Regions from separate parts of the Homo sapiens genome. Here region 2 is reported to be linked to region 1. Evidence: microRNA targets listed by miRTarBase, many of them from high-throughput screens and not tested one by one. Region 1 holds a microRNA gene; the other region holds the end of a gene's coding sequence.
The links. The annotated mature microRNA hsa-miR-181a-2-3p reads ACCACUGACCGUUGACUGUACC and lies in region 1 at 1,133-1,154, shown strand. An mRNA with a match to its seed (bases 2 to 7 or 8) in the 3' UTR can be bound and repressed. Matches are read on the target gene's strand: a 7mer-m8 pairs with bases 2 to 8, a 7mer-A1 pairs with bases 2 to 7 and ends in A, and an 8mer does both.

Region 2: the mRNA of BASP1 is a reported target of hsa-miR-181a-2-3p. Seed matches in the 3' UTR shown: 8mer at 931-938.

What each region holds. Positions count from the first base shown.
Region 1 is chr9:124,691,386-124,694,639 of GRCh38, forward strand. It overlaps MIR181A2 (microRNA 181a-2), which reads left to right and starts at 1,057; the gene lies at 1,057-1,166. All of the region lies in intron 2 of NR6A1 (nuclear receptor subfamily 6 group A member 1), which reads right to left. All of the region lies in intron 1 of MIR181A2HG (MIR181A2 host gene), which reads left to right. MIR181B2 (microRNA 181b-2) reads left to right here and starts at 2,325; the gene lies at 2,325-2,413.
Region 2 is chr5:17,275,692-17,278,809 of GRCh38, forward strand. It overlaps BASP1 (brain abundant membrane attached signal protein 1), which reads left to right. Exons shown (of 2, transcript NM_006317.5): 2 at 1-1,143. The coding sequence ends at 209. Among named protein-coding and RNA genes, the nearest start is that of BASP1, 60 kb to the left of the region's middle. RefSeq lists an enhancer at 1-443.

The DNA.
Region 1 (3,254 bases):
ACCTAAAGCAAATAGTAATAACTATCCCCATTTAGAGATTAACTTCAATTCAGCAGGCAGTTCTGTAAGCCCTTTTCCTATTAAGTATTCCTAGATCTGTCCCATTGTAAATCACATATTCTGAAGATTCATATTATTAATTCATTTTTCAAATTTTTCATCACAGACATTCAACAGAATCAAAAATAACCACTATGTCCTATAATGTACTGGTATCGTTTCAGCCAGAACAAATGACATCTGACATTTTAGTTACACTCTGTGTTCTCAACTAAGAAGAAATGCAAGCTTTACATTAGGTGGTGGGTTTTTGGTTTATTTTTTGCTTTTTCAATATGGAAAATAGCTTGTGGACTATCACTAACACCTCTGTGGTAACTTAGTAATGCAGGATCTCAGCAAAGGAGATCATCAATCATGGAGGTCGAGGTTTTTCATCTTCCCCTATGACCTCACCTATAGACCTACCTGCTATTATTATAGGCAAACAAGTAGAAGAAATTTACATGTTTGACTTTGGCTCTGCAGTGATGGGTCTACTCCTAGATATCAACAGTAAGTTCTGTAGTAGACAACAGAAGCAGTATGATGAGTGAGCACTGGAAACATGAAGTCCAGTATTCAAATTCTGGCTTATAACCTTGGCTCCTGGCAATGTAACTTTAGGCAAATCACTTCAAGTTTTTTCATCAGGAAAATGTGGGTTGTTGAGAATTTAATGAGATAAAATATACAAATCCTAGTATATAGCAGATCCCCAATATATGTTAATCTCTTACCCTTGTTAACAATTAAAATACTACTGCAAAATCAGGTATTTTACATTTTTAGAATCACAAAATAATACCATTCAAAGACATTTTCTCAGACATTCATTTGAGTCTGCTTGTACAAATTACTGCACAGTCTATCCCACAGTTCATTAGTTCTCTGCTGCACACAAATTGATTTTATAATTTAAATACTCTCGACTTGAAACCCAGAGAGGAATGTAAGAGCATCCATCAGCGGTGGTCTCACTGCTCACTGGTTCTTGGGATGTGGATGGGAGAATGAAGAAGGGCTATCAGGCCAGCCTTCAGAGGACTCCAAGGAACATTCAACGCTGTCGGTGAGTTTGGGATTTGAAAAAACCACTGACCGTTGACTGTACCTTGGGGTCCTTACAGACGACACTACATTTCCTGAAGCAAAAGAGCAAGCTGTACCTTCACATGTCACATGAGTTCACCAGAAATGGTCCTGCAATCCCCCAAATGTGGTCCAGTGAATTTTATTCCTACTGCTCACTGTTCCTTGCTTTCTGTTGTGTGTTTTATTATTATTTGTTTGTTTTTACAAAAAAAGTGTTTCATTTCAACAAGGTAAGGAGCAGTCCATGATGATATCTAATGTACCTACATGTCTCCTAGATATGCACCATTCTGGTGAGAAACAGGACGTAGCAAGTAAAAATTTATTAAAAATACGTATTTTGTTTTGGAATAAAATCCAGTTAAATAATTACTCCCATTTCTCCCACATCCTCTCAAAATTTTTAATTAGGGGCAAGGGGAGGATTTAATAAGCAAAAATAGCACAAAATTATCCAATTGTGACAGTTCTTATCACATTTCACTTTGAATTATAGTTAATATGGTTAATTTTTGATATCCCAGTTAGAGCATGAGCTATTGCCTTACTAGTGCCCACATATCCCCACATATGCTTATTTAAATGTTTGCTAAATTCAAGCAAAAACTTAGCCCTGGAGTCAGTCAGATCTGGGATGAATCTTGGCTCAAGCCCTTAACTAGTTATTTGACCCCCTAAGCAAGTGTCTCAGTTTTCTCACATATAAAACAGAGGCTAAGAGTACCTATCATGGAGTTTTGAGACTCAATGAGATAATATATAAGGTGCTTTGTACCATTACTAGCCCACAGCAAATGCTCAATATATGTAAGCTGTTATTATTAAACTCCAACATAATCTGCTAATTTACCTCAAAAAAGCACTCATACTTCTCAGTTCAAAACAAAGAGGAAAAGCAGGTCCCTCAGCTGTGGTTTACAGGTACTAATATGCAAGCACTGCCTGTGTGGCGCAGTGCTACCTGTGAGGTTCTCCAAGCACTCCTTCCTTCTCTGAACCACAGCTTCCTCATCTGCAATAACCTCCCAGCTCCAATGTCAATGTTATGGACACCTGTGTGGGCCCTCAATCATGCAGATGGCTGGTTACTAAGGGAGAAGCCAGACACACAGACTTCAAAGAACTGAGATGGAAAAGAAGAGCCAGGAGTCAGCCAGGGAGGGCAAAGGCAACCCCACCAACTGAAAACACTGATGGCTGCACTCAACATTCATTGCTGTCGGTGGGTTTGAGTCTGAATCAACTCACTGATCAATGAATGCAAACTGCGGACCAAACAACCCAAAGGAAGCAAAAGCATGTGCAGAGAGTCGCCTGAGTGCAGCAGCTACTGCTGTGAGTGGGAGCTGCTACTATTTCCAAAACACTAGCTAAAGCTTTTCTTGTTCTCCTTGGTTCTAACATGGAGTAAGTTCTCTAAATTCCTAGTACTTTTCTCCTTTTTCAATAGTCTAGATTTAAGGAAATGATATTTTATAGGAAGAATTAAATACATATCTGGATATCACATCACATTTTAAAAATCAGTACATTCAGAATTTCTAAACAGAATCATATGCTTATTATTTAGAAATTCAAATACAAAAATATACAAAGTAAAAATTGAAAATCCCTTCAATCATCATCTGCAATCCATTTCCTCGGAGGAAAACATGTATAATTATAATAAACTTATTAAGATAATAAATATCATAACTAGAATTTATTTTATATCCTTGAAGACCTTTATCCATACATACACAGATAAATAGCTGTAATTTTGCATGTTTTGGGGGGAGAGTGGCTTAGACAAAAATAAGCTCATTTTTACCTATTGTTCTATAATCTATTTTGTTATTCAGCTATATATCATAGACTTCCACAACAGTCTTTTATGTACTCGTCATTCTTTTAAATGGCTATATAGTATGACTTAATATGAATGTTCTGGTTATTATTCAGATGTACATCAATATTCTCTTTTGACAAAAACTATGAGGCTCATTCATTCTAACCTTTGCAAACCATGTCCCTCAAACAGGAAAAACACCTAAGTGAGATAGAAGATGTACATTTTTCTTAACAAAAAATTTAAATGTAGTATCAACTCTCTAAATCCTGTAACATGAGATAAGCCACTA
Region 2 (3,118 bases), not on the chromosome of region 1:
CCCAGGAGACCAAAAGTGACGGGGCCCCAGCTTCAGACTCAAAACCCGGCAGCTCGGAGGCTGCCCCCTCTTCCAAGGAGACCCCCGCAGCCACGGAAGCGCCTAGTTCCACACCCAAGGCCCAGGGCCCCGCAGCCTCTGCAGAAGAGCCCAAGCCGGTGGAGGCCCCGGCAGCTAATTCCGACCAAACCGTAACCGTGAAAGAGTGACAAGGACAGCCTATAGGAAAAACAATACCACTTAAAACAATCTCCTCTCTCTCTCTCTCTCTCTCTCTCTATCTCTCTCTCTATCTCCTCTCTCTCTCTCCTCTCCTATCTCTCCTCTCTCTCTCTCCTATACTAACTTGTTTCAAATTGGAAGTAATGATATGTATTGCCCAAGGAAAAATACAGGATGTTGTCCCATCAAGGGAGGGAGGGGGTGGGAGAATCCAAATAGTATTTTTGTGGGGAAATATCTAATATACCTTCAGTCAACTTTACCAAGAAGTCCTGGATTTCCAAGATCCGCGTCTGAAAGTGCAGTACATCGTTTGTACCTGAAACTGCCGCCACATGCACTCCTCCACCGCTGAGAGTTGAATAGCTTTTCTTCTGCAATGGGAGTTGGGAGTGATGCGTTTGATTCTGCCCACAGGGCCTGTGCCAAGGCAATCAGATCTTTATGAGAGCAGTATTTTCTGTGTTTTCTTTTTAATTTACAGCCTTTCTTATTTTGATATTTTTTTAATGTTGTGGATGAATGCCAGCTTTCAGACAGAGCCCACTTAGCTTGTCCACATGGATCTCAATGCCAATCCTCCATTCTTCCTCTCCAGATATTTTTGGGAGTGACAAACATTCTCTCATCCTACTTAGCCTACCTAGATTTCTCATGACGAGTTAATGCATGTCCGTGGTTGGGTGCACCTGTAGTTCTGTTTATTGGTCAGTGGAAATGAAAAAAAAAAAAAAAAAAAGTCTGCGTTCATTGCAGTTCCAGTTTCTCTTCCATTCTGTGTCACAGACACCAACACACCACTCATTGGAAAATGGAAAAAAAAAACAAAAAAAAAACAAAAAAATGTACAATGGATGCATTGAAATTATATGTAATTGTATAAATGGTGCAACAGTAATAAAGTTAAACAATTAAAAAGAAGTAATAAAGACTATTGGGTTTTTTGTTCTGTTTGTTTTACTTTTCTAGTCCCCTTCAATAACTACTTTATCAGAGAACAGAGCACTGTATTGGCCATTTTTCTGAATATATTTGGATAGAAGTAAAAAAATAGACCAGGGACGGTGGATCACGCCTGTAATCCCAGCACTTTTGGAGGCCGAGGCAGGTGGATGGCTTGAGCCCAAGAGTTGAGGACCAGCCTGAGTAAGATAGTGAGACCCCACCTCTATTTAAAAAAAAAAAAATGCCAACATTATTTGTTGAAAAAAATAGCTAGGGCAATGTCAGTAAACTATCTCAGAAGAAGTTAAACTGAAAACTTACTGCATCTATGCATATGCACCCTCTGAAAATGTAACTAATTAAGAAGAAGAAAGATTTTGAATAAAACACGTTAAAAGACAATAAATAGATTTGATCTTGAAGGCTGGGGAAAAAATGAATGACAGGATCTTATAGAAACCTGTGTTTGTAAATTGTGGCACCACTAATGGTTATTCTGTTCTATCCCATCCCCTATTTTTATTTTTATCATATTCATGGTAGAGCCAGGAAAGGCCACCTGAGAATTGTGCTATGAGACAGCAGTGATGCGGAAGCAAGCATGGAGCCGGCCTTTATGGTGACCGGATTTCGGTCCTGATTTTGCCACTAGTGACTTGGATGGGTTTTAAGTCACTTCCAACCTTCCCAGACCTTCCTTGCTTTACTTACAAAAGGGTGTAGCCTTTATGATCTCTGAGGCAAGGTCCCATTTAATGGTTTGGGTACATACCCGGTGACAATTTAATGTCACGATGCATAGGTATGCACAGACTGATGGGATGTCTCTTCCATGTCTTGATTCTCCAAAACTCACAGAGTAATGAATAACAATTTCATAGTTTAGAAAACTCCGACATAGGAAATGTCCTGTGGAATGTGTGAAGGCCAGTGTAATGGAATTGATTCTCAAAGGGACATTAATGACACAATGGATTCAGACGAACCTGGTTCCATTCTTACGGGTTACATTACACATGGTTAAATAAAAAAGGGAAAAAAATCTTTGAGTATTTTGGGAGTAGCCTATAGTCTGTCTCTTACCTCATTGGGAAAGAAAAAGTGGTGAAAGTGAGGATTATGTAAGTATTATACCCGTTGGGTTCAACTGGTATTTATGATCATTTTTTGGCACTTTGGGTTCTTGTTTCTATAGTGAGATAAATTTGAATTCTTAATGCTTGAAAGCACAGCATACAAGAAATCTGTAAACACAGTAACCACCAGGCAACTGTTTTACATAAGGAAAAAGAAGGGGAATGTCCAGGTAATTACCCGCGTGTCCTCGCATATACAAAATAGCTTGGGGGCCGGTGATGGTGATGGAGTGGTAAAAGATTCAGTGAACCATGGAGGACATTTATATAGTTACTGATTAAATGCCATGCATTTATTGCAGAAAAATATGCTTGGTGGAAGTAATATTTTATATATTCACTGTCTTCCCCACTTCCCCTTCTTCTAATAAAAAAAATGCTAAGCTTTTTGGTAATTAGAACAATCAAATCAGCCTCCCAGATTAGCATTTATTACTACAAATTGCCATTTTTTGAATAAATGAAACTGAGACATTTTTCTGAATTTATTTGGAGTTGCAGAGTAGGAGAATTAAAATCTGAGCTATATATATTTATTTTTCTTTTTTATAACTCCATTAGGTGTTGAAGCAACTAAAAAGTGTTAGAAATATAGTCACCAAAATGTTTAAATCAGAATTTTAACCTAGCCATGGTTCATGACATTGAATTTTACCATACTGAAGAAAAAAACTTGAGCTGTAGTTTGAAGTTGTATATGCAGCAGAAAATGTAGTACGTGTGGGAGTAATTGGCTCAGCCAGGAAGGGAACAATGTTGGGCCATGTTAATTTGGATTAACCTAGATTGTTCTTGCCTCATGAATGATTTAAAAT